Homo sapiens: one gene and its partners. The protein of the gene in region 2 interacts with the protein of the main gene of each other region in a biochemical or structural test. Each region holds a gene or a part of one and is shown on either strand. Other genes may lie near its edges. The genes, in order: NFIX, PRDM1 and TLE2.

Evidence for each region.
Region 1: the proteins of PRDM1 (region 2) and NFIX form a complex in vitro, tested with the Homo sapiens proteins (one study listed by BioGRID).
Region 3: the proteins of PRDM1 (region 2) and TLE2 form a complex in vitro, tested with the Homo sapiens proteins (one study listed by BioGRID).

What each region holds. Positions count from the first base shown.
Region 1 is NC_000019.10:12,998,458-13,005,562, forward strand, and holds part of NFIX (nuclear factor 1 X-type), read left to right. Parts: intron 1-7,105.
Region 2 is NC_000006.12:106,096,233-106,103,337, forward strand, and holds part of PRDM1 (PR domain zinc finger protein 1), read left to right. Parts: intron 1-1,856; exon of another isoform or gene 1,857-1,981; intron 1,982-2,708; exon of another isoform or gene 2,709-2,853; coding exon of another isoform or gene 2,854-2,862; intron 2,863-3,067; coding exon 3,068-3,320; intron 3,321-7,105. UniProt on the Homo sapiens protein: Transcription factor that mediates a transcriptional program in various innate and adaptive immune tissue-resident lymphocyte T cell types such as tissue-resident memory T (Trm), natural killer (trNK) and natural killer T (NKT) cells and negatively regulates gene expression of proteins that promote the egress of tissue-resident T-cell populations from non-lymphoid organs.
Region 3 is NC_000019.10:3,026,218-3,034,175, reverse strand, and holds the start of TLE2 (transducin-like enhancer protein 2), read left to right. Parts: upstream 1-4,895; 5' UTR 4,896-5,271; coding exon 5,272-5,295; intron 5,296-5,372; coding exon 5,373-5,470; intron 5,471-5,793; coding exon 5,794-5,857; intron 5,858-6,302; coding exon 6,303-6,347; intron 6,348-7,958.

The DNA of each region.
Region 1 (7,105 bases), on a different chromosome or scaffold from region 2:
GGCGGGGGGAAAAATCTCCTTCTAGAAAAAGCATCGAAATTCAGGGCGGCCGGGTGGGGCGGTTCCTGGAGCTGCTGGAGTCCATTGTAGCCACAGTCCTGAGTCTCAGGCGGAGAGAGGGGTGGGGGGTGGATGGATGGACCCCCATCCCCATCCCAACCCTGCCAAGAAACAGAGACACAACCAGGATGTGAACTCACGTACACCACCATCACCGCCAAGATGGGGATGTAAGTGTCCTGTTCACACCGATGTCCAGACCCACGACCATCGACGAGCCTACAGACCTACGGACACAGGAAACCGACGACTTGTGTTCACACTGTCACACACACCCATTAACACACACGCACCTCTTGAAATGGGACACGTATATTGGTGTAGGCTTAGCGACACAGCAGTACCTCTTTGACGCACGTATGGACACAGGAAACTGTGGACTTGTGTTCACAACCACCCCCAGCGCACACATAAACACTCACAAACCCCTCGAGATGATACAGATAGCGACGAAGGCACATGGAGACCACGACACCTCCCAGACTCATGGAGCCCTGAGCACATGCTTGGATACAGGTAGACACAAATGTGTGTTCACCCCCACACATGCTCACATGGACCCAAGGACGGACAGGCGGATGGATGGATACACATCTTTACACAGAGACATAATGCAGTTGGCTCGCTCAGGTGTGTACACAAATAACTTTTCTTTTTCTATTTTTTTTTTTTTTGAGACGGAGCCTTGCTCTGTCGCCCAGGTTGGAGTGCAGTGGCGTGATCTCGGCTCACTGTAACCTCTGCCTCCCGGGTTCAAGCAATTCTCTGCCTCAGCTTCCCGAGTAGCTGGGATTACAGGTGCCCGCCACCACGCCCGGGTAATTTCTGTATTTTTTAGTGAAGATGGGGTTTCACCATCTTGGCCCGGCTGGTCTTGAACTTCTGACCTCGTGATCCACCTGCCTCGGCCTCCCAAAGTGCTGGGATTACAGGCATGAGCCACTGCACCCGGCCACAAATACCTTTTCAAACACACACACACACACACACACACACACAAATATGCACCAATGCGTGCTTCCCCCTCCTTGCCACAGGGATAAAAAGGCAAACATGCCGACATTTGCTGACACACACAAAGACATACATGGCCGCACACACGGATACACCCGCTCTCAGACACGCAGCGACCTACGCCCATTTTCCTGGCCATACAAGCAGCCGAACGTTCCTGTACTTCTGTATCTGCATAGCTCCCCCAACACTCCTTCCATGGGAGGGGGATGGCTGGGGCTTCCCTGATGCCCCCTTCCCCCAGCTTTCTCTCTGGGTCACTCTGGCCACCCCTCTGTCCCTGCGAAGCTATAGCTCTCTGTCCCTGCTCCGGCCTGGTGCCCTGTTTTCATGGCACTTGGCATTTTCTCTCCGGCTCTGGCCCTGCCTGATTCATGCCCACTGCTGGGGTGGGAGGTGTGCCCAGGTGTGGGCCGGGATGGGGTAGCTCATGAGATGAGCTGGGGCTCCGTGAGATGTTTTGATGCTGGGCCGAGCTCAGAGCCGAGGGCTCTGCCGGGAACAGGGTGCTCCAGTCTCTCTAGGGCCTGGAATGTCTTGTGTAGCCTCAAGAGCTCCCAGACGGAGGCTGCGGGAGCGGAGTCAAGGGCTAGGCTTTGCCGTCAGACAGAAATGGGTTCGAGCTCCAGCTCTACATGTTCTAATCTTGCGACCTGAAGCACAGGATTTTCCTGGCCTGTAAAATGGGCAAAAACCAGTGTCTATCTCTTGGGCTGTACTTAGGTTCAATGTGGTGCCTGGCACATAGTGTGTGCTCCATAAATGGTAATTGTTGCCAATTGTTGGTTGTCAACCTCCCAGACCCTCCCAGCTGAGAGAGGGATGCCTCTGAGGGGTAGAAGACAGGATCGAGCACCTCCCAACCATAGATATCCAAGTGGACTGCCTGGAGGAGGAGGAGGCAAGAGGAGAGTTTGGAAGGATGAGAGTTTGCACATGGCCCAGCTCTTTTACCTTTGGATGGGGGCCTGTAGGCCAAGCAGAGGGTGGCACAACTTCAAGATAGGGGAGAGATGGTGGGGGAGAGTGGGGGGCAGGAGGGGAGAGACGAGGCCTCCACTGTTCCATGAGGACCAGATACCCTGGTTGGGGGCCCTGAGTCCTGGTATAAGAGTATGTGTGCACGCATTCATCCAAATGTATGTGGGACAAAGAGACCCGGTGCATCTAGATGATGACTTCAGGGACGTCCCCAAGCTCCAGAACTTTCTGTGTCTGCACCTGGGCGTTGTCACCTGGACCCGCCATGGAGACAGGACATATGTGCAGGACCCTATGGTGGGCACTTGGCTGGATCAGGGCACATTGCGGGTGGGAGCAATGCTGGGTGTTTGGCCGTGGCGCCGTGGCTGTGGGCAAAATGCCCCCGTGGTTGGTGTGTTGACTGCCGTCCTCCCCATCTAACCCACAGGGAGCCTGGCCTTTTAAATCTGCTGAGATATTGTCTCCCCCACCCCCATGAAGCTGGAATCTGGGGACTTGCTGGACCAGAGAGGTAGGGGAGGCTGGGCACTTTCTCCAACACGGTGCTGAGAATGGGCCTTCTGTCCCCTCCCTCCCAGCTGGGGTGGGGAAAAGGAGGGGGGTGTCTTAATTTTCTTGCCCCCAAAGCCCTGGATGTGGGGGCAAGTGGGCCAGGAGGACAGCTGTGAGCCACTATCTGGGTTCTCCCAGATCGGTGTGCATGTTAATCGGCATGTCAGGCCTCAGAGCCACCATTTTCCCGAGGATGTCTGTGTGGCAGCGTGTGTCTGCCCGGGTCCCTCTCCATGCCTCTCCATGTCTCCCAGCGTCCATCACTGGGTGCTACCTGCATGTGACTCCACGGATCATCGCACGCCCTGTCTCTTGTGTATTTGGTAGTGGGGGTCGGGGAGCGTGCCACCATGCGTGTCAGTGTGCCGGATGTAGTCTCTGTGTCACGGTGGCGCTGCGCACGTCAACGGGTATTGGTGTACCGGTCACCATCTTTGTATCTGCGCTTTGTATCTGGGGTGACAGTGTCCCAGCGACATGCGTCACATCTACAGCAGTGTTTTTCTGGGTGTCTGTGCGTCACGGCAAAGAGTGTATCCGTGTGTCTCACACACGTGTTGGCCTGTCCGTGTCAACTTGTGTCCACATACGTGTCAACGCACGTGTCTCCAGTGTCATCACCCTCATATCACTGTGCCTCCTGAGCTTGTCCCCGTGACAATCACTGTGGGTCTCACCCCACGGGCGCCTCTCCTGGGCATTCCCTTGGCCTCCGAGCACCATGTGAGATGCCTGCTATGGCGGCCGGGCAAGCGGCTGGGAGCGGGCTGGCTGCTCAGTCCCTTCCCATGAGGTTGAGCGGCCGCAGTGGCCTTGCTGGGGGCCCCGCCCGTGCCCCTGGCCTGGCGTGGACAGAAGCCCGTTGTGCGGCAGCGAGGTGCGGGCGTGTGTTCGGGCCGCCCACAGGCCTCCCTCTGTCTGCCCGGCGCACATTGATCTTGGCTTCTGCCTGTGTCCGTTCTAGCCTGGCCAGCTGGGTGTCCGGCTGTCTCCGTGGGCCTGAGCCCACTATCCCCGCTGCCCCCACAGCCAGGCAGGCCCTGGGCCCCACACCCCTGGGCCACCCGCCATCCCTCCGAGGCTCTGAGGGCGCGGATTTGGAAACTGAGGTCCCCCCTTCTTTCCCCCTTTCTCTCTCTCTCTTTCCTCCCTCTCTCCTCCCCTCCTCCCCTCCTCCCGCTCCCTCTCTCCCTCTCTCTCTCCTCCTGCCAAACGCGTCTTGGCTCCGTCTGAATATCTCTCCTCCTCGATTTTTGGCTCCAGCTCTGGGCGCGTTCACTAAAGGAAGAAGGGCTAGCTCCCCAACCCCCCCTTCCTCACCACCTCCCCCCTCCCGAGGAGCCCCTCTGAGGGCGGGAGTGGCCTCGTGCAGGGGCCTGGGCCCCCTGAGTGGGCTTGGCCAGGGGGGCACAGGCCTGGCGGGTGAGGGAACAGGGTGGACAGGGCCTGGCAGCCAGAGGGAGGCAATGGGCAGGGTGACTGAGCTGCCCGGCGGGGCGGGCGGGCAGGGAGGGGTCGGGGGCACGGAGCTGGGGTGTCTGGCTTCTGGTGGGGCTGGCAGGCCTCTGTGAGGCGCAGCTGTGCCCAGAACTCCAAGTTGCGTTTGCCACCACTACCGATGTGGCTGCGCCAGCCAGGGAGGGGAGGCGGGTAGCGGGCACTGCGGCGCTCTGCAGCCAATCGGAAGCCGGGGTTGCACTGGGGAGCTCTCCCCCCACTGGGCCCCACCCTGAGGGGAGCCGGGGGTGGTGGCCAGCAGTGGGCAGGGGGCAGTGCCCACCACCATCGCCAAGGACCCTGCCCCCTCAGCTGAAGCTCAGTGCCAGCCTTCCTGGCACAGATCGGGCAAGAGCGGGGATCTGTCTGTCCCCACCTGAATCTGTGTGAGCCAAGCTGGAGGAAAGGACAGCATGGAGGTGCACCCGACCCCCCTGGGCCTTTTAGTCCAAGGCAGGCAGGAGCTAGGGATGGGTTCCAAATTATCCAGGTGGTTCCGTCCAAATATCGGCTTCGGTCGAATCATCTTGGGGAGTTGGGGGGGGGTTTATTCCGGGTCCATCTCACACAAAGTCACACACTCTCACTGGCACATGCGGGCACAAAGAATCACGCTGACACACACTGGCATGCTGCACCTCCCTCAATCAAACAGACACAGGCGTCCCCATACAAAGAATCTTGCCCTCACTCACAGACACCTTGAGGCACCCGGCCACACCCGAACACATCGATGCGGCATTACACACTCAGGGACGTGCATGTGGGTGCAGACACACGGGACACGCGCAGTCACACGATCACATGCCATGAAGCACACAGCACAGACACAGGCTCTGCCACCGTCAAATGCAGCCCCACAGGCACAGCTAGAAACACACAGCACACACACTCAGTCATAATGTCAGTGCCCAAAACACACACATGAGCACCGATACACCCGCACATGCCACCAAGCACACAGGTACATGCACATGCATGCAATAACACGCTCTCAGACACACAAAACACCCCACACACTCCCTAACCCAGTGTCACCCACCAGGAGTGATTTCACCCATTGGGAAATGTCTGGAAACATTTTTTTTTTTTAGAGACAGACTGTCATCTGTAGCCCAGGCTGGAGCACAGTGGTGCGATCTCGGCTCACTGCAGCCCTGACCTCCCAAGCTCAAACGATCTACCCATCTCAGCCTCCTGAGTAGCAGGGAATACAGGTGCATGCCACCACACCTGGCTAATTTTTAAATTTTTTTGTAGAGACAGAGTCTGGTTATGTTGCCCAGGCTGGTCTTGAATTCCTGGGCTCAAGCAGTTCTCCCGCTTCACCCTCCCAAGTAGCTGGGACTACAGCCGAGCACCACCATACCCAGCTAATTTTTAAATTTTTAGTAAAGATGAAGTCTGGCTTTGTTGCCCAGGCTGGTTTTGAATTCCTGGGCTCAGGTGATCCTCCCGCCTCGGCCTCCCAAGGTGCTGGGAGCCATGAGCCACCATGCCCAACCTGGAATCATTTTTGGTTGTCACACTTGTGGAGGGGGTGCTATTTAGTGAGTGGAGACCCAGGATGCTGCTCAGTCCCCTACAATGGAACCCCTCAACCCTCGCCGACCACAAAGAATGATCCAGCCCCAAATGTCAGTAGTGCCAAGGTTGGAAACCCTGCCATGCATCCCCAGATACACAGTAACACACACAGGCACAGCTAACCCTTGACACTCATTACACATGCACCCACATACACAGTCACACCCAAACAAGACGCCAGCTGACAGTGTCACACACACACACTCTCCCTCACTAGGACCCAGGCATTGTCGCATATATACCCCATTTCCCCTGCCAAACCCAGGCACAGTCGGCGTGCCATGTACACAGTCCAGTGTTACCCCAGCACACAGGGACGAGAGCCACACCCCCACACATATTCGCACCTGGGCCACACCTGGCAGTGGTTGGAAATGGTGCCTGAGAGCTGAGACCTGCCCTGGTGGCACCTCCCCTCTGCTTGTCAGCCACAACCAGCTGTCTTTGCGCAGCAGCTACAGCCACCCCAGCTTCTCAGGATAGAATTGGGAGCCCCAAATCCCTGCCCTGGTTTGTAGAAGCCTGGGGTGAGACAAAGCCTGGAAAAACCACATGCCCATCCCTGCCCAGGACACTCGCAGTCTTCTAGACTCCGTGGTCGAGGGCTCCACCCTCACCTCCTTGCTCCTGGCAGCCACCGAGAGAAGGGATGGGGACAAAGCTAGGTTCTTTTTTTTTTTTTTTTTAAACAGTCTCACTCTGTTGCCCAGGCTAGAGTGTAGTGGTGCAATCTCAGCTCACTGCAACCTTGGCCTCCCAGGCTCAAGCAATTCTCATGCCTCAGCCTCCCGAGTAGCTGGGATTACAGATGTGCACTATCACACCTGGCTAATTTTTGTATTTTTAGTAGAGACAGGGTTTCTCCATGTTGGCCAGACTGGTCTCAAACTCCTGGCCTCAAGTGATCCGCCCGCCTCGGCCTCCCAAAGTGCTGGGATTACAGGCGTGAGCCACTGTGCCTGGCCAACAAAGCTAAGTTCTGAGACTCCTGTCCTCCGTGGGGCTGTCTCACTAATCCTTTGGCCTTTGACTCCCCAGTTCTGACCCCAGAGAAAGAAGAGACAGCGGTCAGCAGAATGGTAGAAGAAGATAGGATAATAGCAAAATAAATGTTTGTCCTAAAAATCGTAGCAACAGCTAATGTGAACTGTGTGCTTGCTGCGTTGCACCCTTGCTAAGTGCCTTCCCAGCTTGTCTTCTTGAATCCTGTGTTCAGCAGGTACTGTTATTAGGAGAGTGGGGCCTGCAGAGCCAGCTTCCTGGGTTTGACTCCTGGCTCTGCCACTCACTAGCTGTGTAACTTCAGGCAAGTTGCTTAACCTCTCTGGGTCTCAATTTCTGTATCTAGGAAGCAGGGCTGTGGTAAGGATCTGAGGAGTTGGTTCACAGCACACGCTTTAAAACTGTGCTT
Region 2 (7,105 bases):
CCGCCTCCCAGGTTCAAGCAATTGTCCTGCCTCAGCCTCCCGAGTAGCTGGGACTAAGGTGCGCGCCACCATGCCCAGTTAATTTTTGTATTTTTAGTAGAGACGGGGTTCCACTATGTTGGCCATGATGGTCTCGATCTCTGGACCTCGTGATCCGCCCACCTTGGCCTCCCAAAGTGCTGGAATTACAGGCAAGAGCCACCGCGCCCAGCCAGGAATGACAAATGAATTACCTTATAAGTAAATGCCATTAAGGAAGGATAGCTGGAAGATGGGTTGAGGGGAATGGAGGACCACAGAACTAGTCCTATTTAAATACATGTGCATGGTAAAATGATTCCATTTGACAATAGGTTAATTATCTCATAGCATAAGGAAAATGCTTAACAGTCATATGCAAGATGATAAGCTTTCCTATAGCATCCAACCAAAAGATCTAGCCAGTACAATTTCCTTTGCTATATTAGGGTTAGAAAGGCCCCCAGAGGTGAACCAATTAGATGGAATCCTTGAATAAAACACTGGATTAGCAGTGAACAGAAAAAAGTCAGATTGCTTTCCTTCTTCCCATAGATGTCTCAGGGATATTTAGTTTCCTCAGAAGATAAAGAATTTAGTAAGCGTTTTTTTGTGCATACTTACATGAAATGTACATTATTTGAATTCTTTAAAAAGAAACAGCTGCATGATAACAAAAATTGTGTTATGCTTGCTTTAGCTGGTATTTTTGCCTAGAACGATTATATCGTTCGGACAAGAAGCTATTCCTAAGAAACAATATTTTTAATCCAGGAAGTTTTTCATTTTTAGAAATTTATCTTACTATTTCCCAAGCAAAAGAGGGTAGTTACAGATTCACTAAGAATCATGTGCTCACAATTTTTATTTAATAATTATTCCTCCTTAAAATATATTAATCACCTGACTTACAATGGTGGAACCATGAGTGCATTTTTGCCTTTATTGTCAATAACGTCTTCTCAGAAGTGAGCCACAAAGGTGCATAGTTCTTGGAGTTAAAGGTCTGAATTAAGACAATCCAGCATAAGTCTCATTAATGTGTGATTATTTTGAGAAAAGGCAAGAAGTACCTAAGAATCTCCCCCTCACTGTCCAGTTCCCTGTTTCATTTAAAGATTCACTGTAAGTAACTGAAAGGCTTTCCTTGGGAGGATTTATTTGAATCAGTCTTTCACATGCAAAGGATATTGTAGAACATCTCGTTTTTGCTGGCAGGAATATGAACATCTGTTGTGAGGAAAGAAAAAGTTTCATGCAAATTACACTGCCAAAGAAGGGATGTTCAAGTTGAGAAACCAGTGACATTTCTTGTAACTGTACTATGAATCAGCGCATTTTAATCTTCTAGATAATATATGGAAGTGCAGGAAGGTGGTAGGAAACGGTGTTCATTTTACATATGCGTTATTTTATTCTGTGTGAGTGACTTCATGGCACCGACATTGCTGTTTTTAAATGAGGATACAGTAAATTGCAGTCCGAGGAAGGCTAACTGGAATCAACATACCCGTAGCTTTAGAAAGCAGTTTCCGCACCAGCGAAGAGTACAAGAGCGATGGAACCCCATGTTCCTGGAAGTTTGCACATCAGAGTAAACAAACTTGAAAACCCCTCTTGATAGCAGAATTCACCCAGCCTTGTTCCATTTTCTCTTAACAAAACACACCGCAAAAGCTCTCACAAGCTGCTTTGATGAAGCCACATGTATTTCCCCCTTCACAATTTACAGGAAGTTACTCTTAAAAGAAAGTGATTCTGGTGTTTACCGCCTGTGTTAAAGGGACAGAGTTCCTTTTTATTTCTGATAACGTTTGAGCGAAATACAGAAACTATCTGTAGACTAGCATAGTCGGTACGTGAGTAAGGAAAAGCAATAACCTGCTGTCCGGTGAGCACAAAATTCCTGCTACGAACAGTGCCTTACTGCTGCTTGGAGACTGCAAGTCGCAGATCACACTAGGTATTGACTGATTGTATAAGGAAATTTCTTAAAGTCTAAAGTAAAGGTGGTACCTCCTAAAAAGAGGGGAAGAGAGAAAACTTTGTGTGGAAGGATAAGGAGTGTGTTTATAGTTTCAGTAAGAGTGTACGTTTTAATTTTTCTTCTTCCTCTGCCTCTTTGCCAAGTAGCCTGAGTGCATCTGTTATCCAGAAGTAGTATTACTCTAGGACAAACTTCAAATTCTTCATTCTGCGTTGCCTTTAAGGAACAACATACTTTCTTCCTGTTCTTTTTCCAAAAACACACGCCTATGGCTCTGTGTGTGGTGTTTTAGCCAGCCTCCTCCCAGATAAGGGGTTCCCTTCCCTCCTTTGCATTGAAAGGAAAGTGCAAGTCTGGACATGTTTATCAAGAGGAAAAGTGACTTCTCAGTAATAGACTGTCAAATTCGGGCTGCTGCCCGAGTGTTCGCTTTGTTATGGCAGGTGAAGTTCACCTTTGCCCCACCCAGTGTTTCCACAAAAAGGCAAGGTTCCAAGTATTCATATGAACAAGTGTTACTTTAGGACTTGGAGGGTTGGGGGTGGAGGATGTTTGCATAGTTGAAGCCTTGGGCGGGGGTGTAGGAAACGGCGAGTACAGAGGCCATAGAAAAAGCTAAGACTCAGTTTGACGTCGTCAGCCGGCTTGGTCTTCTACCCAGTGACTCAAAGCACTAAAAGTCAGCATAATCGGAACTGAAGTCAGTAGCATCGCCCATTTGCCATTCACTGCAGTAGCAAAAGTAGTACTCTGTGGTGGGTTAATCGGTTTGAGGCAGCTCCTTAAATGAACATTTGTGTTTCATTTTTCTGTTATTTTCCCGAACATGAAAAGACGATAAAACTGAAATGGAAAAGGTAACTGACAAAAGTGTGCCTTACCTGTTTCCGCCCTGATTTCTGCTGATTCAAGACTATTCTGGCTAAACTGATTGGATTCTTTTTCTAACTAGGCAGTAGGGGATCAGAAATCACACACGGTACCGGCTGTGTTTATTCTGAGAGGTGCTGGGGAGCTTTGGGTCTGACTTCCTTTTACATGCCTGTCTTCTCTTTTGGACAGATCTATTCCAGAGGGGAGCTTCACCACTTCATTGACGGCTTTAATGAAGAGAAAAGCAACTGGATGCGCTATGTGAATCCAGCACACTCTCCCCGGGAGCAAAACCTGGCTGCGTGTCAGAACGGGATGAACATCTACTTCTACACCATTAAGCCCATCCCTGCCAACCAGGAACTTCTTGTGTGGTATTGTCGGGACTTTGCAGAAAGGCTTCACTACCCTTATCCCGGAGAGCTGACAATGATGAATCTCAGTAAGTGGATTACAGAACAAAAAAATAAAAAATGCCAGTAATGTCGGTTCTGCCCCTTTGAACTAATAACATGTTGTTTAATTATACGGCTTTGTCATGTGTTGGATGAAGTAGGTGGCTTAAGCTAGGGACTAGGAAGAGGAAAAACATTTTTTGAGTCCCTATTAACTATTAGGAAACTTGATCATTTAAAAGTATATATATATATGAGGAGCTACCTTGAGTTTTGAATTCAGGATGTTACAGGAAGAAATATATGTCCAATTCTAATTTATCCAAAAGCAGTTGGGAGAATTACAGGGATTGGTCCAGACATGCTGCGTATGCAAGGTATAGCCCTCATCTGTGGTACTTTGGCAGGGCTTAGACTGCATCAAAATATTTATAGATGTACATTTGAGTGTACAGTTAGGATCTGATGTGGAACATTGTAAGATCATTGCTAGAAAAACTTTGTCATAATTTTTCAATATTATTCTAAGTGAATAACCGTAAAGATTTTACATCTTAGCTTCCTTCCTTACAGTAAAAAAACTATCTGATCTCTTGATCAGTATTATAGTAGCCACCTATCACTTTATCTTAACAAATTCTCAATTCCTTAGGTTTATGTGCTTTTACTTCTTTTATTTGATTAAAATTGCTGTCATGACCTCTCTCTGCAGAGGGCTGCATCATTTTGGTCATTCTCAAGTGATCTCTTTGAGCAATTTAAGAATTGCCATAAGATTCTAACCTCTGCTGTAACTATGGTTGTGTGTTCTTGGTTAGACCACTAAATCTTATTAGCAGTTTTAAAAATTATTCCTTTTGGTTTAGAAGTTAAGACTAAATGCTGAAGTTTTTGTAACTTTTGGTTTTGATATCATTTCAAACTTAAGAAAACATTTGAAGAAAAGGACAAAGAATTTCCACTTACCCTTTACCCAGGTTTACCAGTTATTGATAAGTATATCCATTTGCTTTACCAGAAGGCTAACTTGTTTTAGTTCTCATTTTCACCTTTGAGACATTTGGAATAAATATCAATGTTAACATAAATTGGAATTTTGACTTTGATTTTAGGACCAATGAACAAGCCAAGTACTTACCCTAGTCATATATAATCCAACTGTATGGTTATTTGGTATTCATTCCACACTTCATTTTACTTGATCTCCCTTAAGATTGCAAGATTGTGTTTGCAGTTTTTCTGAAAATCTGGGGCTATAAAAGCATCAGGACCTCCCCCGTAGGGGAGGTCGTGTGTTTGGGGTCCTTACACAACAGGTTACCCTTGAGCTTCAGGAAAAGAACTGGCTCTCAGTTCCCCAGTTCCAGCTTAATGGGTCTAATTAGGTCCTGACCAAAAAGGTGGCAGTTCTTTTCCCTCATGTCTCTTCAGCGCTCCCCGAGACTCTGGAGACTCTGTCATATCCCTAGGGCTGAGCCTCCCAGGAACCATTCGGCTGTTGTGGCATCTGTGTATGCCATGCCCAGTGCTGAGGACCTAGTAACAAACGACAAATGCACAGGCACAGTGGCATTTTTGTGGAACTCGTATTCCAGCTGTGCGTCTCAGAAGAAGCGCACAGCTCCCTCCTGGCTTTCTTAACATAGTGAGCCACTTCCACTTAAGGGTCTCCTTACATTCCTTGAGTTTAATCATTCATGGATTCAGAGGAAAGTCTTTTGATTTTTGCTTTTCTTTAAACAGTTCATTTGAGGTGACCTACCCCAGTGACTTTGCACCAACCACCAAGAAACTTTTTTGCATGCTTCCCGCACCCTGTGCCAATCAAGGGAAGGGTTTAAAGGCCTGGCGTTTTTATTCCTCAAAGAAAGGTTTTGCACAGTATTTTAAGGTTCAAGTGCTTCTACTTTGTGTTCAGAAGCAACTGTCATATATACTGTGAAATGACACCTTTTATTTATCCCTTTTTATTTATGCAGTATGTCCCCTTTTATTTTGGCAGAATTTTTTCTAAATGGTGGTTTAACATTTTCAAGCACATTTCATTGTCCAATATTCATAGTAAAGAATGAGAGTTAACAATAACCAGTCACATTAAAACAAGATTCCTGCTGCCAGTTGTGAAACCGGTTGTCTTAGGCGTGGCAGCTGATGATTGAGACTGTGATCAGGAAAATTTCCACTATTTCATCAGGCCTAATAGGTAGATTGTGTCTCCAAATGAACTGTGTTGGGTTTCCATGCTTAAAGCACAATAGAGGTGGTGCAAGAATCTCCATGAGGGCTTAAATGGCAGTGATGGTTCAGGCGGTAGAGTTTGGAGAAGAAGGGATTTGAAACAAACCAAAGGAAAGAAAAGTAAGTAGCCAGAAATCACAAAATGGCATTTTTCTAAAAACAAAGGAAAAGGAATAAAAGAACTAATAAGTTTGAAACCCCTACCCCTCCCAAATTTGGCAGGGGGGGAGGTATTTTTTTTCTATCTATCTAACTAACCCATCTAGAAAACAGTTGACCAAATTATAGACTTCTAAATGTTAATCTGCTTTCTCAGTTTCAGTTGAAAAGAGACTTTGTTTTGCCTACTGCAGAACTTCTAGGTTCTTTCTTATAGTCTTGGGGTTCTTATTATAGATCGAAAATGTGAGTCGGCATAATTAAGCCATTCGGAGTCTTCAGAAGCAGTTCACTCTTGAAATGACTCCGTCCGCCTACAGCCATTTAAGATTTCAGAACAAAAACAGATCTTGATTTTCTTTTTCATGTTAACTCAAGCTGTTGCTGAGTGGGAGAGTCAGAAATGACACCAGCTCCACTGATTACTCAGCTGCTGAAGGATGATTTTTTAAAATGCACCTTTACTGTATATGGACTTCCTAATTTCCACCTGTAGAGCATCTTAGGGAGGCTAACATGTCACTCTGGATGTTCTTTTAGAATAAGATGCAAATCTATTTTTCTGAAGGCATTAGAGATAGCAAACATTTATTGTGAGTTTACTATATACTAGGCACTGTGCTAAGTGTTTTGCATAGAAAGTTTAAAATTCTGGCTTTTTTGTTGGCCCAATCATAAGTTTCATATCAGTTCAACATTCAAATTATATTAAGGTACTTAAGAAGAATCCCTGGCTAAATGTGAGGGGCAGTGCCACAGATGGACTGAAACTTTATGCTTATTGCACATTTATGCTATTATTATTTGTTGAATTATAGAACCAAGGGAGTGTGGAAGCCACTGGAAAAAATATGAGACTTAGATACATAATTTGAGTAAAAATGGCTCAAAGTCATGAGGGTAAAGTTTTTTGTATTTCCATTTTATTCGAGCGGCATCGTTTTTAAAAATCATTATGAATTTGACCCTATATAGATGTTTCCAAATAATTCTTTTTCACCTTCATAAAATTCCTTCCTGTGGCTGTGAGATGCCTTGCCTATCAGTTTTCAAGCTTAGTTGTCTTTCTCATCCTTTACCATTTTAGCTTTAAAAAACAAAAGTGACAATTAGAACTTCCTGCCTGCTGGGCCTCACTGAAAGACCGATATTGGCCTGATAAGGAGATATTTATTTTGTTTTAGTGGCTTCAGAAATCCCTCTCCCTCAGCAAGCTTTCCATCACGGCCCCCCCGTCAGCATCTTCCCTGATAGCGTTCTTCTCTGTGTTTATTCTGGGGCTTCAGGCTCGCCCAGGAGGAACTGATAACCGCTGGCAGGAGATAACATTCTCTAAGGGGCTCTCAAATTGGAATCGAATCCCTCAAGCCAGTCAGCCTAGAGAATACATTTAAAGGGTTCAGTTCTGGAGTTTCACAGAGTTCATTTCTAGACC
Region 3 (7,958 bases), on a different chromosome or scaffold from region 2:
TAGAGGGCTAGGGTGATGCTCTGGTTTAGAGTATCTGGGGGATGTGTGTGGGAACCCTGATAGGAGCAGGGGGTAAGAGTCTGAGATCTGGGGGACCTCTAGGGGAGATGCCCAGTTGGTGGCTGGACCCACAGGGCTGGGTCTCAGAGTAGGAACCGGAGGTGGTGCCAGAGCTTGCAGCCATCCTCACGAGGCGGTCACTGAAGCCTGGAGGGAGAGGCGGTGTCTCAGAGCCCTGGAAGCCAGAGGTGTGAGTCAAGTTGACATTCAAGTGACCGGGCTAAGGAAGGACAGAGACCTACGTTTGTTATTTTACTTTTTGTAGAGATGGGGGGTGGGGGTTGGGTCTCGCTATGTTGCCCAGGCTGGTCTCAAACTCCTGGCCTCTTTGGCCTCCCAAAGTGCTGGGATTACAAGTTTGAGCCACCACACCTGTGCTTAGAGAGGGAAGAGGGCCGCCCGGACAGGAGAGCCCCGCAGAGGGAGGTGAGGCTGCTCTGAGCAAGCATTGTAATGGAGGTCAAGAAGGAGCCATTGGGTTTCCAGAGCCAGGGGCTTAGGCAGAAGAAGGAAGATCTGGAGGGGCGCGGTGGCTCACACCTGTAATCCTAGCACTTGGGAGGCTGAAGCAGGCAGATCGCCTGCCAGGAGATCAAGACCAGCCTGGCCAACATGGTGAAACCATGTCTCTACTAAAAATACAAAAATTAGCCGGGTGCGGTGGCTCACGCCTGTAATCCCAGCACTTTGGGAGGCTGAGGCGGGCGGATCACGAGGTCAGGAGATTGAGACCATCCTGACTAACATGGTGAAACCCTGTCTTTACTAAAAATACAAAAAATTAGCTGGGCGTGGTGGTGGGCGCCTGTAGTCCCAGCTACTTGGGAGGCTGAGGCAGGAGAATGGTGTGAACCTGGGAGGCAGAGCTTGCAGTGAGCTGAGATGGCACCACTGCACTCCAGCCTGGGCGACAGAGTGAGACTCCATTAAAAAAAAAAATTAGCCAGGCTTGGTGTATGTCTGTAATCCCAGCTGCTCGAGAAGCTGAGGCAGGAGAATCACTTGAACCTGGGAGGCGGAGGTTGCAGTGAGCCGAGATCTGTAATCCCAGCTACTTGAGAGGCTGAGGCAAGAGAATCGCTTGAAACTGGGAGGCGGAGGTTGCAGTGAGCCGAGATCGTGCCACTGCACTCCAGCCTGGACGACAGAGCATGACTCCGTCAAAAAAAAAAAACAACCAACAAGAAGGAAGATGTGGGGTGGACAGTTGCAGACAATGAGGACAGAGGCTACCATGTATGCTCAAGGTCCAGGCAGGGGAGATGTTGGCCTCCCAGGAGCAGTGAAACACCTGCCGGAAAGGGTTTGGAATCAGCACTTCACAGACCCCCAAGAACCTGGAATCACGGACTCTTGACAGCGTAGAATGATGGCGCTCCCTGTTTGTGAGAATTTCCAAGCAGGGAGTGTGGCCGGCGGTTTCTGGCTTTAGGCTGGTTATTGAGCACTTACTGTGTGCCAGGCCCCGCAGAGACCTAGACAGGCTCAGTCCCTCCACAGCCTTCTTCGTGGTGAGGGAGACAAACAAGGACGCGAACAACCTCCGAGTAAACATACTCACATCCAAAACACACTGTGGGCTGGGCACGGTGGCTCAAGCCTGTAATCGCAGCACTTTGGGAGGCCAAGGAGGGTGGATCATCTGAGGTCAGGAGTTTGCGACCAGCCTGGCCAACATAGCGAAAGCCGGTCTCTACTAAAAACATAAAAATTAGCCAGGCGTGGTGGTGGGCACCTGTAATCCCAGCTATTCGGGAGGCTGAGGCAGGAGAATCACCTGAGCCCAGAAGGCAGAGGTTGCAGCAGTGAGCCGAGATCACGCCACTGCACTCCAGCGACAGAATGAGACTCCGTCTCAAAACAAACAAAAACAAAAAAACCGAAGGCCAGGCATGGTAGCTCACGCCTGTAATCCCAGCACTTTGAGAGGCCGAGGCAGGTGGATCACCTGAGGTCAGGAATTCAAGACCAGCCCGGCCAACATGGTGAATCCGTCTCTACTAATAATACAAAAAAAATTAGCTGGGCATGGCGGCGGGAGCCTGTAATACCAGCTACTCCAGAGGCCGAGGCAGGAGAATCGCTTGAACCCGGGAGGCATAGGTTGCAGCAGTGAGCCGAGATCGCGCCACTGCACTCCAGCCTGGGCAGCAGAGCAAGACTCCGTCTCAAAAAACAAAAACAAAAACAAACAAAAAGCCACACACTATGGTAGGAGCTGGGAAGAGAGGGAGAATAGGATGGAGAGTGTGAAAATAACGGGGTGGGCAGAAGCTGTTGAAATGGGTGGCTAGGAGGGGCCGTTCTGAGGAGGTAGCTTTTGAGCTGAGACTTGAATGATAAGAAGCAAGGGAAAAGCATTCCAGGTACAGGGAACAGAAAGTGCAATGGCCCTGAGGCTGGACTGTGCCTGGTGTGAGGCCAGTGTGACTTGGGCAGAGTGAGTGAGGGCGAAAATGACCGGAGTTGAGATCATGAAGCTGGCTGGCCGGGTGCAGTGGCTCATGCCTGTAATCTCAGTGCTTTGGGAGGCCGAGGTGGGAGGATCGATTGAGCCCAGGAATGCAAGACCAGCCTGGGCAACACAGTGAGACCTTGTCTCTATAAACAATAAACAAAACATAAAGAGATGGTGAAGGGGAAAAGGGGAAGAGTTTTGTGAAGAGCCTTGTGGGAAGAGAGATGAGTTTGGATTTATTTTGAGGGCAATAGGGAGCTAGTGAGTACTACACACACACACACACACACACACACACACACACACACACACACAATTGTATCTTTATCCCAGGCTGTGTCTCTTTTCCTCCCTTCCCAGAGCTGCCCAACCTCATCGTTCAGGTCTCATCTCCAAGGCTACCCTCCCCCAAGGGTCCTCTCCCAGACACCCCACATAAGCAGGTTTGCTTTTGTTCATCTCTATCACTGCCCTCTAAACTCTTCCTCTGTCTGTACAAATAGTCCCATAATTACCAAGCTGTGAACCTGCCTAGCCTGTCACTCACATCCCACAAACTCAGAGAGGGCAGGGATCTGTCTCCCTTATCCACCCTTACAATCCCTGTGCCTGGAAGGATGCCTGACACGTCATAGGTGCTCTGTAAATATCTGTGGGCTGGAAAACGATGGCTTTAAATTTGATAAGGGCTTTTTTTTTTTTTTTTTGAGACAAGGTCCTGCTCTGTCACCCAGGCTGGAGTGCAGTGATGTGATCTCAACTCAGTGCAGCCTTGACCTTCTGGGGCTCAGGTATCTCCCGCCTCAGCCCCCCAAGTAGCCGGGACCACAGGTGTGCATCACCATGCCTGGCTAATTATTTTTGTATTTTTTGTAGAGATACAAAAAACACAAAAATGTTTTTTTGTATTGTCGCGGTGTTGTCCACACTGGTCTTGAACTCCTGGGCTCAAGCGATCCTCCCTCCTCAGCTTCCCAAAGTGCTGGAGCTACAGGCATGACCCACCACCCCTGGCCCATTGATAAGGGCTCTTGTGCCCTTTTGTAAGGGTACAAAATGGGTTTTTGTAACCCTAACCCTTAGGTACCATTAGGTACTCGATCACCTAAGGACACAAGTCCAAGTGTCATCAAGGGGCATGGATTTTTCTCTGTTTTGTTCCCAGCTGTGCCCCAGTGTCTACAGCAGTGTGTGGTCCACAGTATGCATTTAGTACACGTTTGTTGATTGACTTCACAAACCTCTCCTGAGGTTTCTCCAAAGAGAATAAGAACTTCCCACTCCCCGGGTGGGCCTGAAGGATGCTGGCTGGATGTCTGTGGTCTCTGGTCGGGGCTGGAGCCTTTGCCGTGGGAGAGACTTGAGTCTGATGGCAGAGCTGTGGTTCTTCCAGTTCTGAGTGGGACACGGCTCCTGCCTTCAAGAAACCCAGTCTGAGAGGGGAGACAGCCCAGTCCACTGGTGATGGCAGTAGGAACACAATTCCCATCTGTGGAAGTTTGCTCTGTGTAGGGAGAGGCTGACAGCGTTCATGCACTATCTCATTTAAGTGCAGTGCCCAGTGCGGTGGCTCCCGCCCGTAATCCCAGCACTTTGGAAGGCCGAAGAGAGAGGCTTGAGTCCAGGAGTTCAAGACCAGCCTGGGCAACATAGTGAGACGCCCCCCTACTCCATCTCTGCAAAAAATTAAAAAATTAGCTGGGCGTGGTGGTGCACACCTGTAGTCCCAGCTACTGGAGAAGCTGAGGGGGAAGGATCGCTTGAGCCCAGGAGTTCGAGGCTGCAGTGAGCCATGATTGCCCCACTGTACTCCAGCCTGGGCAACACAGGGAGACCCTATCTCTGCAAAAAATTAAACCCTAAAGATAGCGCACCACCCCTGACCTTTTGCAGAGACTACTGAGGCCCCCAGAGGGCGAGGGCCCGGCATGATCTGGGAAGCAGTGTTTGCTGTGAGATTCCCTTTCTGGCAGGGTTCCCTGCCAGCGCTTGGCAAGGCTGCGTCCTGCTGACCCTTCAATCTCAACCCAATGTCACTTGCTCAGAAAAGCCATTTCCGACTCCAGACTGGTCCCCGCTCCCCGCAAGCCCCCCCCCCCGCTCCCACGGTGGGTAACACGGTGTGAATTTCTTCACTGGTTTTTCTTCTCCCGCCCCTCCGGGAGGGGGTGGGGACCCTGTTTTAAGGCACTGGGCGCCTCCCCACCCGGCCTCAGTTTCCCCAACGGCCCAGGGACTGAAGGAAGGGGGCGGGTGCCCGGGGGCCGGGGGGGGCGCGGGCGCGGGGAGGGGCGGTGCGCGGGGGTGGGCGCGGGGCGGGCCGCGGGCGCGTGGGGGCGGCGGCGCCACCTTAAGGCGGCTCAGCCCGCGGCTCCCGGCCGAGCCCCGCCGGAGGGAGGCGGCTCCGCGCGGGGCCCGCCGCCCGCGCCGCCGCCACCGAAACCCGGCCGCGGCGCGCCCGACCTTCTGCGCCGGCTGCCGCGGCCGCCCTCGCCGCGCTCCCGCCCCGGCCGCTGCCCCTGCCCGCCCCGCTCGCCCCGCGCACCCCAACCCGGGGAGGGGCTCCCACGACCCCGGGCGCGCGCGCTTGGGGGCGCGCCAGGGACTCCAGGGTCCCTTGCCCCGCGCCGCTTCTCCCTCCTCCCTCTTTCTTCGGGCAGCCTCCCCACCACCCCACTTCAGCCTCCCCCACTCTTGCCGCCTCCATATCATCAAGCTCTGGTGGCGCCTGGGGGGCTTTTCGGATCGGCAGGATGTACCCCCAGGGAAGGCACCCGGTGAGTGCGGACTGCGGGGAGGGGGCCCCCAGTGTCCGGGAACTCAGACCCTGACGTTTCCCCCACACCCCCCCCAGACCCCGCTCCAGTCCGGCCAGCCCTTCAAGTTCTCGATCTTGGAGATCTGCGACCGCATCAAAGAAGAATTCCAGTTTCTTCAGGCTCAATACCACAGGTGAGGGGGGCCGCCCCAGGGGCCGCGGGAGTTCACCTGGGCGCCGGGGCGGGGCGAGGCCTCCGGGGTATAGGGCGGGGAGGAGGGGCTCCCGGTTGGAGGGGGGGCGCGACAAAGGCCTCCAGGTGGAAGCGCAGGTGCAGAGGGGTCTGGGGACAGTCAGAGCTGGGGCATTTGGAGCCCAGGAAGGGGCGGGGAGGGACTGGGACAGGAGGTGGGGGGAGGTCTGTAAGGAAGTCGGGAGGGGGAGATCCAGCCTCTCACTTTGGAAGCCGGCCCACATGGGGCGGGTGGGAGCCCCTTGCCCTCTCTCTTCTTCTCAGCCTCAAGCTAGAATGTGAGAAGCTGGCCAGCGAGAAGACGGAAATGCAGCGACATTATGTCATGGTGAGGGCACTTATGATGCCAGGGTGAGGGGAGAGGCGGGCAGGGCTTTGAGTCACGGTGGACTCTGGGGTAGGTCCCTGCCCCACTCCGAACCTCGTCTTCCCCGTCTGTACATTGGGCAGGTTGGGATTTCAGGCTCTCTAGGAGGGTCCTCCCAGCTCTGGGAATGGGGAGACAGGGAGGACCCCTCGCCTGATGGGAGTCTCTGTCGGGCCAGGGCCTCTGGACACTTCCTACCTGCCCTGCCTCTCTGGGGAGAGTAGAGGGGGCCCTTCCAGGCAGAGCCCCCGCTTCCTCCTCTGGGACCCCGTGGAGCTGGGGGGGGCTCTGCTTCCTGCTGTGATTCCCCTGAACCTGGGGACTCTTGGAAGACCCTGGCATCACCTATCTGGAGGAGGGCACCCATCTCCACCCTAGACGTTCTTACTTGGTTTTTCCTTTGCAGTATTATGAGATGTCGTACGGGCTCAACATTGAAATGCATAAGCAGGTAACTGGGTTGGGGTTACGCGTGTTCAGGAGGGAGGGTGGGGGTCTGGAAGCCCTGAGAAGGACCCAGAGTGGGCAGCCGGGGCCAGAGCAGACCTAGGGAACACGGGTCTCATCCTGAAATCTCCGCAGAGGTCACAGAGGGCCCATCTGGGACCAGGAAGACAGATTTCAGCCTCGTGGAAGGAAAATGAGTCCCACCTTCTGAAGACAGTATCTAGCAGTTGGAGCGTCCAGCAGAGATGCAGGCAGTGGGCAGGGGCCACCAGGCATCCCCATCAAGGAGGGCACATAGCAGAGGCAGGGCAGCCAGGCCAGGGAGGCTGTGGAAGTGACTTCTGTCCTAGGAGGGAGCTGGATGGCCACTCTTAGAGGTCCCTTTCAACCCAGAAAGTCTGAAGTTTTGAGATGGACCCCAGGTTCTGTTGCTGCTTTGAAGCTTCTGAGATTGGTCTCAGTGTGATTGGCTGGAAGGTTCCAAGATTGTTCTCCAGGCCCTGAATTTGATGCCATGGTTCAGACTGTGACCCCACTACTCCAAAATAGACCTCAAAACTCTGTGGCTGTCTTCAGGGCTTTGAGATTGACTCCAGTGTCGTAAGGCTCTGAGCCTCTTCTGGAGCTTCTCAGTGTGATCCAAGGTTCTGAGACAGACTTCAGGGTTCTGAAATAGACCTCAGGGTTCTGAGATTGACCTCAAGGTTCAGAGATAGACCTCAGGGTTCTGAGATTGACCTCAGTGTTCTGAGATAGACCTCACGGTTCTGAGATTGACCTCAGTTTTCTGAGATAGACCTCAAGGTTCTGAGATAGACCTCAGGGCTCTGAGATTGACCTCAGGGTTCTGAGATAGACCTCAAATTTCTGAAATTGACCTCAGGGTTCTGAGATAGACCTCAAGGTCCTGAGATAGACCTCAGGGTTCAGAGATAGACCTCAAGGGTCAGAGATAGACCTCAGAGTTCTGAGATAGACCTCAAGGTTCTGAGATAGACCTCAGGGTTCAGAGATAGACCTCAAGGGTCAGAGATAAACCTCAGGGTTCTGAGATTGTCCTATCTGTGTACTGAGATGTGTTAAAAGGTTCTGAGGTGTTCCTGAACTTGTGATCTCAAGGTTCAGAGATAGACCTCAGGGTTCTGAGATAGACATCAGGGTTCAGAGATAGACCTCAGGGTTCTGAGATAGACAGGGTTCAGAGATAGACCTCAGGGTTCTGAGATTGACCTCAGGGTTCAGAGATAGACCTCAGGGTTCTGCGATTATCATATCTATGTGCTGAGATGTGTTAAAAGGTTCTGAGGCTATTCCCGAACTTCTGATCTCAAGGTTCTGAGATAGACCTAAAGATTTTTTTTTTTTTTTTTTTTTTTTAAATTTTGAGACAAAGTTTCACTCTTGTTGCCCAGGCTGGAGTGCAATGACCTGATCTTGGCTCACTGCAACCTCTGCCTCCTGAGTGCAAGCGCCTCTCCTGCCTCAGCCTCCCGAGGAGCTGGGATTACAGGCGCCTGCTACCATGCCTGGCTAATATTTTGTATTTTTAGTAGAGACGGGGTTTCTCCATGTTGGCCAGGCTGGTCTTGAACTCCTGACCTCAGGTGATCCACCT